2 linked regions of the Homo sapiens genome follow. The protein of the gene in region 2 binds, or shares a complex with, the protein of the main gene of each other region. Each region holds a gene or a part of one and is shown on either strand. Other genes may lie near its edges.

Region 1 (4,300 bases), 1.9 Mb from region 2:
TTGAGACGGAGTTTTGCTCTTGTCACCTAGGCTGGAGTGCAATGGCTCGATCTCGGCTCACTGCAACCTCCGCCTCCTGGGTTCGAGCGATTCTCCTGCCTCAGCCTCCTGAGCTGGGATTACAGGTGCCCGCCACCACGCCCAGCTAATTTTTGTATTTTTAGTAGAGACAGGGTTTCACCATGTTGACCAGGCTGGTCTCGAACTCCTGACTTCAGGTGATCCACCCGCCTCAGCCTCCCAAAGTGCTGGTATCACAGGTGTGAGCCACCGCGCCCGGTAGGAATACGTATCTTTGTTTTTTTTTTTTTGGTCACTTTCCAGCTTTGCCTGTGGCATTCTCCGGAAGAGCAGTGGCAGGAAGCCGTGGGTGGCAGGAATGGGTTTGGGACTGTTCCCTGTGTCCAGCTTCAACCCATCTTCTCCTGACACCCCTTTCTCCTGTACTTATTTTTCTCCTGTCCTTATTGACGCAGATGTGTCTTCTGATCTCTCTGTCCCTTCCTGGCCTGTAGTTTCTACTTCTCTTGGAGAACTGTTTCTTCCACCTCCTCCAGCCAGGCTCCTTCCCTGGTGTGAAGGATGCTGTGCTCTTTGGTGGGGCTTAGGGCCCTGTAAGAGGAGGGATGTGAATTGGGGTGGTTTGGAGTGGGAGTGGGGACCTGATTGCCTCATTCTCACCCTTGACAGTGTGCTGTGTTAACAAGCCCTGTGGAAAGGGGAGACAGGACAGTGCTTGGCTATGAGCCATCGGTCTTGGTGTGGTAGATGGCATACGTAGAGAACAAGCCGTGACCAGCATGTCCTCTTGTTCCCTTCTTGCCTGGTAGCTTCCTGATGTATCATCCAGGTTGAACTTTATTCCCCTTTTTTCACCAGCTTTGCTCTTCCTCTTGGCCCTGCTCTGCATCCATTGGGACCACTTACTTCCCATCCCCACTTCGCTAGCTCCAGTCCACAGCTGCTGTAGCAGAGGATGCTAATGGCCCAGGCTTACTGTATGGGGTAGCGGTTGGGGGTGGCCTGGGCTGGGGCCAGCCAGCTTTCGGGCATAGAGAGGGTGGGGGAATTCGAGTGTCCAACCAGGACAGGAAGGGAAATGCTGAGCTCTGAGATCTCCTCCCTTTTCCACCCCCAGCTGCCTCTGTTTCCTCCCTCATTCCCCTGTACTCCTGCCTGGCTTCCTGCCCCCTTTGGCCTGCGTGTGTCCGGTTTTGAGTGACCCAGACCTCCTATCTCCTTCCTTTCCGTCCCACTCTTCCATCCTTCCCTCCCACCCCCACTTTACTTCTCCCCAGATTACTAGTTGTTTGTATAGGGCAGGGGAGAGGGGCTTGGATAGCCCTACCCCCTGCTCCAGTTCGAGGTTGGGGCGGGGTGGGGGCTCAGCCCCTCTGAGCCTGTGAGTCAGCACTGTCCTCACGATTGGTCTCTCCCCTTAGCTCCCCGCCCCTGGGGAGGAGCCAGAAGCGCTGGGTCCAGCCTGTTCTCTTCTCAGCCAGAGAAGAGGCTCCACGTTGGGCGGGGATGGGGCCTGAAACTGTCTGGGTCTGAGCTGGGGAGCGGAAGCCACTTGTCCCTCTCCCTCCCCAGGACTTCTGTGACTCCTGGGCCACAGAGGTCCAACCAGGCTAAGGGCCTGGGGATACCCCCTGCCTGGCCCCCTTGCCCAAACTGGCAGGGGGGCCAGGCTGGGCAGCAGCCCCTCTTTCACCTCAACTATGGATCTCCTGCCCCCCAAGCCCAAGTACAATCCACTCCGGAATGAGTCTCTGTCATCGCTGGAGGAAGGGGCTTCTGGGTCCACCCCCCCGGAGGAGCTGCCTTCCCCATCAGCTTCATCCCTGGGGCCCATCCTGCCTCCTCTGCCTGGGGACGATAGTCCCACTACCCTGTGCTCCTTCTTCCCCCGGATGAGCAACCTGAGGCTGGCCAACCCGGCTGGGGGGCGCCCAGGGTCTAAGGGGGAGCCAGGAAGGGCAGCTGATGATGGGGAGGGGATCGTAGGGGCAGCCATGCCAGACTCAGGCCCCCTACCCCTCCTCCAGGACATGAACAAGCTGAGTGGAGGCGGCGGGCGCAGGACTCGGGTGGAAGGGGGCCAGCTTGGGGGCGAGGAGTGGACCCGCCACGGGAGCTTTGTCAATAAGCCCACGCGGGGCTGGCTGCATCCCAACGACAAAGTCATGGGACCCGGGGTTTCCTACTTGGTTCGGGTGAGTGAACATCCTCCTCTCCATTCCCCCGCAGACCCCCTCCAGTTCTAATGCTCACTCCAGCTTGGCCGGAATCTCTTTTTTCCTGCTGTTCCCCAACAACCCCGTTTCAGTGTCCTATTTCCTAAACCTTTCTCATCCCTTCCCCGATTCTGTAGCCCCTTCCCTTCCAGCTTTGCCTGGGCCCCCTTCCTTCTTTTCACTCCCCCACCCCCACCCTGGCATGCTTAGCACAATGCCCAGCATGGCAGAAGCTCTTAATAAGTGTTGGAATGAATGACTTCTTGATCTTTCCTCCATTCTCCTCCCGCTTTCTGGAGTTGTCACTCCATCCCAGCCAATGCCTGTCGGTCCCCTCCAAACTCTCTCCCCAGTGTGTGAGGTCCTTCTAGCCTGCCTTTTCTTTTTCTCCTCATTCCCTGTTGTCTTTCACCTTGGTTGTGGGATGTAGCCACGGGAAGTGGGCAGAACTTCTTCCTCTTTACTTCCCTTAGGGACCATATGGGTAAAGTCCTAGGGCCCTTTGTGAAGGGGCTGGGGTGGGGGAGCCGCTGACCTGCTGTCCTCTTCTCCCTCCCCTTAGTACATGGGTTGTGTGGAGGTCCTCCAGTCAATGCGTGCCCTGGACTTCAACACCCGGACTCAGGTCACCAGGTTAGTGGGGAGGGAGTGGATTGTGGGAGTCCTGGGATTAGTGAGGCCATGGGAAACAGAGGAGGGGAGTGGGTCACTTGGGTGCTGCTGCTGGGGGCTGATCTTTGCGTAGTAAAGGGGATTGAGAGAAAGCTGAGGTAGTGATTCCGCCTCTTACTGAAAGGAGGCCCCTTTGGCCCGGATCCTCCTTACCTATCCAGCCTTGGGAGTTGTGGGGAAGGTGGCAGAAGCAGCTGGCAGGTGGAGCTGGAGTAGAAAAGGGGGGTAGATGGAAGGTTGCTGCTGCCTTTGGGAAGGGAATGGGACATTTGGTAGCTGGAAGGGGGTGGGGCTATACCCATTGAGGCCCTAACCCAATCAGCCAGGAAGTGGCCTCTCAGTGTCATCAAATATTAAAGGCCCTTAATTCAATCCACCATGACAAAGAGCCTGGAGTGCCCTGGGAGTCTGGCCTGGCTTTCCCCTCCCCCAGCCCTGTGGCAGCCCCAGTTGAGTGGGAGGCAGGCAGGCAGGCGCTGGGTCTGAGTACCCCTCTTTCCCCAGGGAGGCCATCAGTCTGGTGTGTGAGGCTGTGCCGGGTGCTAAGGGGGCGACAAGGAGGAGAAAGGTACTTGGGGTCCTTGGGGATAGGGATGCTGCTGGGAAATGTGGAGGGGCAGTGGGGAGGCAAGTGTGGGGCATGTGGGGAGAGGGCCAGGAGGCAAAAGTGTGGTTTGCCTGTGCTGGGAACCCTCACCTTCTGAGACCCTGGGCCCTACCTTAGCCCTGTAGCCGCCCGCTCAGCTCTATCCTGGGGAGGAGTAACCTGAAATTTGCTGGAATGCCAATCACTCTCACCGTCTCCACCAGCAGCCTCAACCTCATGGCCGCAGACTGCAAACAGGTTGGTGAAGGTGGGCAGACGGACCAGAAACACTGATGGGGGTGCTAAGGGGAGATCTAGTTAGGAGGCCAAAATCTAGGAAGAGGGCTTGAGAGCAGGAGACCAGTAGGGAAGGAGGAAATGAGGATATGGGATAAGGAACCCAGAGAATGAGACTGGGGCACCAGGGTTCTGGGCCCTGAGGCTGCCTGACACATGGCATTCCCTTCCTTCTTCATCCCCTGCCCTAATTCTCAGATCATCGCCAACCACCACATGCAATCTATCTCATTTGCATCCGGCGGGGATCCGGTGAGTTGGGGAACAGAGCAAAGGCGGTGGGAGAAGAGCAAGGGGCTAGGGATTGGGAAGACATTGATTAGAGAAGTGGGGGTGCTAGGATTGTGGGGATATCTGAAAAGGACTGGGTTTTAGGGGTCAGGAGTAAAGTAGAACTGTAAAATTTTTTGACCTTCCTCCCCAGGACACAGCCGAGTATGTCGCCTATGTTGCCAAAGACCCTGTGAATCAGAGAGGTGAGGCATGGTGGGGAGCACTGGGTGGGTCT
Region 2 (3,500 bases):
CAGGGATGCCTGATATAAAAGGAGAACACCAATCTGAGAATGGACTTGTGTGTGTGCACGTGAGAGATGGACGTGAGCTTTGTTTCTGTGTGTCCATGGGTGAGCGTGTTCCTGCAGGCACATGTGCAGGTGCATGGCGTCATCTGTGCAGATGCTTATGCCTCTGTGTGTGCGCATGTGCATACCTAGGTGTGTGCATGTGTGCAAGAGGTATGTGAGAATGTGCATATGTGTGAGGGTGTGGGGATCCATATGTATGTGCGCTTGTGTGTTCATGCACACACATGTGCATGTGTGACTTGAGGTGCGTCTCTGTGCACATGTATGCATTTGTGTGTGCACGCCTGTGTAAGTGTGTATGCAGGTCTGAACAGGTGCATATGCGTGTGCATGTGGCATGTGCATGTGTATTGTGAGGGAGTAAGTGGGTGGGCATGGGAACTCAAGTGTGGGCCTGAGCCCTGTGACTCCCATCCGCTCTCCCCACAGCTACATCGAGAACCAGCAGCATCTGCAGCATCTGGAGCTCCGTGATCTGAGGGGCCTGGGGGAGCTGAGAAACCTGTGAGGGAAACGGGGACTGTGGGTGTGGAGCTCAGCATGGGCCTGGGGGAGACCAGAAGGTCAGGGAGGGCTCAAGCATCCGAGGGCCTGGGAGGACCTGAGAGGCTGAGCACTGAGGGACTGGGAGAAGTCAGGAAGCTCAGGGCTTTGAGGGGTCTAGAGTAGTTGAGGAAACAATGAGGGGCCTGAGGAGGGGTAGGGGTTCAGCACAGGGGACTGGGAGGCTGGGATGGGCAGGGAGGGCCAGGGGCCCAGAGTAGCTGAGACCTGGGGACTGATCCTCCTGCACCCCTCCCCAGCACCATCGTGAAGAGTGGTCTCCGTTTCGTGGCGCCAGATGCCTTCCATTTCACTCCTCGGCTCAGTCGCCTGTGAGTGTGGCCAGTGCTGGGCAGTGGGAGTTGGGGAGGACACCCAGACTTGGGCTGCTAATGGGCTTGGCTGTCCCCGGGGAATGATTGCGAGGAGGGCCCAAGCCTGGTCAGGGAAGTCACCTCACCATTCTCCTGGGGCTTCCTCCCATCTCCCTCAGGGATGGCATGCTCTCGCCCCTGACAGCTAGAGGTCCTCCTTGCCATCTCACTTCCATGGTCCATGCTGCAAGGACACTTCTCATAGGTGCCTGCCCTATCTTTCTTCCCAGGGCTCAGATACACACCAGTGCAAAGGGAGCAAGCGGCAGGAGCAGGACTCCTGGGTTCTGGCTGGGACTCCATTTCCCAGGGACTCATTGACTTGGCCCCTAGGACATCCTGGGAGCTGGGGTGTTAGGTCTGCCACTTGTCACCCTCCTCATTCCTGGGAGTCATAACTATCCCTCCTGTAGAGCAGTGGACCCCAACTTTTTTGGCACCAGAGACTGGTTTCATGGAAGACAATTTTACCACGGATGGTGCGGGAGGAGAGGATGATTTCAGGACGAAACTGTTCCACCTCAGATTATGAGGCATTAGTTAGATTCTCAAAAGGAGCACACAACCTAGATCCCTCACGTGCGCAGTAGTTCACAGAATCTAATGCTGCCATTGATATGACAGGAGGCGGAGCTCAGGCGGTAATGCTCACTCACCGCTGCTCACCTCCTGCTGTGTGGCCCGGTTCCTAAGAGACCACATATTTGCCCTGTTTATAGCCCCTCTTCCTTGCTGTGCTTCTCTTTTTCTTTAATTTATTTTTTAAGAGTCAGGGTCTCCCTCTGTTGCTCAGGCTGGAGAATAGTGGCACTATTACCCATCTGTGGCCTGGGAATTGGGGACCCCTGCTGTAGGACAGAGAGGGTCATGGGATGGGCAGGAGAGACTATCAGAGTCCCTGGCAGCCCCTCCCTGGCCTTCTGAGGGCAGGAGTTCAGCTCCCCTGTCCCCCAATATGAGCAGGCAGAGAGATGGGAAGGATGGTGGGGCTGACACTCATGGAGTTATGCAGGGTCCTCTAAACTCTGCTGTGTCCAGCAATTTAACAAAGCAAAATAAAGTGATGTCATATCACCGTCTATGCACCGGGGCTTCAGTTAAAAACGTGCTCAATGACACTTCACGATACTTATGTCAATGAATCTTCACAATCAACCTGGTGAGAGAGAGAGTGTTCTTGTCCCCATTTCATAGATGAGAATTCTGAGAATCAGAGAGGTTGAGTTTCTGGACTGAGGTCACACAGCTGTAAGTGGCAGGATAGAACTTACACCTGCTCTAGCTGGCTCTAGAGTGGGTTGTGTCTTTGGTCCCTATGTGGTGGTACTTCTCCCACCCAGCCACCACAAATTCTAGGTTGGCTAGGAAAGAAGAGGGGTCAGGATAGGCCCCTCAGAGGCAGAGGGTCCCAGCAGCGGCAGCCTGGCACAGGGCACAGGGCACTGGGGCTCCTACATCATTTTCCTGTGTGGCCTGGAGCCGGGCCCCTGCTGGGCTCACTTTTTCCATCCATACAACGAGGGGGCTGGGGGTGTGGGGGTGTGGGTCCTTTCCTGCCTGACCTTTTAGTCCCTGAGGAGGGCCCGGAAGGAGGAGGAGGAGGGGAGCTGAGGAAGTGCGTGGAGTTCCTTGTGGTCAGGTAGGGGCAAGGGAGTGGCAGCCTCAACCCTCCCCCTCTTCCTCTGGCCCCGTCCTGGGCTCTGTAGGGAGGGGAGCACAGATGGACCCCTTCCCCCAGCTGTGGCCTCAGCACTTTGCCAGCTGGGGCCAAAGCAGTGGGGGAGGGAGGAGCGGCTGTTCCCTCAGATCCCCCTCCCTGGGGTCTGGAGAGGGGGTTAAGTGGGGTTAACCCTTGTTGTCCCAGGGAAAGGAGTGGGACTCAGAAAGTCCCCCCACCCCCCACCCCACCATCTACACACACTGCCTTCCAGGGCTGGTTCTGGTTGCCTAGGCCGGGGCGGGGGAGCCAGATGTCAACTTCTTTCTTGGCTCCTCCCCTCCCTCATTCTGGTCAGAGTGAGGTCGGGTCACTCAAGGGGTCTGTCTTGCTGTGTCTCCACGCCCGCAGGAATCTCTCCTTCAACGCTCTGGAGTCTCTCTCCTGGAAAACTGTGCAGGGCCTCTCCTTACAGGAACTGTGAGTGGGGGCGCTTCCAGGGGCAAGAGCACCAAGTGTGTGTGTGCCTGTGTGCACTTGGGTCTGTTGGATGACATTGGGTCACTGTGTCTGTGTGACACTGCTGGGGGGTCTCTTTGGGGACTATGTGCATGCCAGTGAAACCCCCATCAAAGCAGGGGCTGCAGGACTACCCGTTAAGGGGGCTACTGCCCTGAGGAGCTGGCCTGGATGACTGTGTGTGTGCTGGGCCTGGCTGAGCAGATTACAGGCCCACTGTGTGTCCAAGGCACATCTGCCCACATTCCCAGGGCACCCTGCACAGGGGTGAGTGGGGCAGCAGGGGTCCATGTGTACCTGGTGGGCACTTAAAGCCTCTGGGTCACTCTGGGGGGCTGTGCCCTTCC

Evidence for each region.
Region 1: the proteins of NTRK1 (region 2) and SHC1 are in contact, whole or in part, in an NMR structure (PDB 1SHC), measured with the Homo sapiens proteins. Residues at the interface, in NP_002520.2 of Homo sapiens: His489, Ile490, Ile491, Glu492, Asn493, Pro494, Gln495, Tyr496, Phe497; in NP_892113.4 of Homo sapiens: Met176, Arg177, Ala178, Leu179, Ser259, Ile260, Ser261, Phe262, Ala263, Ser264, Gly265, Gly266, Lys279, Asn283, Arg285, Ile301, Ile304, Gly305, Phe308, Glu309, Phe312, Lys313, Gln314, Tyr315.

What each region holds. Positions count from the first base shown.
Region 1 is NC_000001.11:154,967,948-154,972,247, reverse strand, and holds the start of SHC1 (SHC-transforming protein 1), read left to right. Parts: upstream 1-1,500; 5' UTR 1,501-1,721; coding exon 1,722-2,216; intron 2,217-2,799; coding exon 2,800-2,870; intron 2,871-3,413; coding exon 3,414-3,477; intron 3,478-3,633; coding exon 3,634-3,753; intron 3,754-3,990; coding exon 3,991-4,044; intron 4,045-4,216; coding exon 4,217-4,268; intron 4,269-4,300. UniProt on the Homo sapiens protein: Signaling adapter that couples activated growth factor receptors to signaling pathways. Participates in a signaling cascade initiated by activated KIT and KITLG/SCF.
Region 2 is NC_000001.11:156,863,865-156,867,364, forward strand, and holds part of NTRK1 (high affinity nerve growth factor receptor isoform 2 precursor), read left to right. Parts: intron 1-489; coding exon 490-564; intron 565-863; coding exon 864-935; intron 936-3,045; coding exon 3,046-3,114; intron 3,115-3,500. UniProt on the Homo sapiens protein: Receptor tyrosine kinase involved in the development and the maturation of the central and peripheral nervous systems through regulation of proliferation, differentiation and survival of sympathetic and nervous neurons.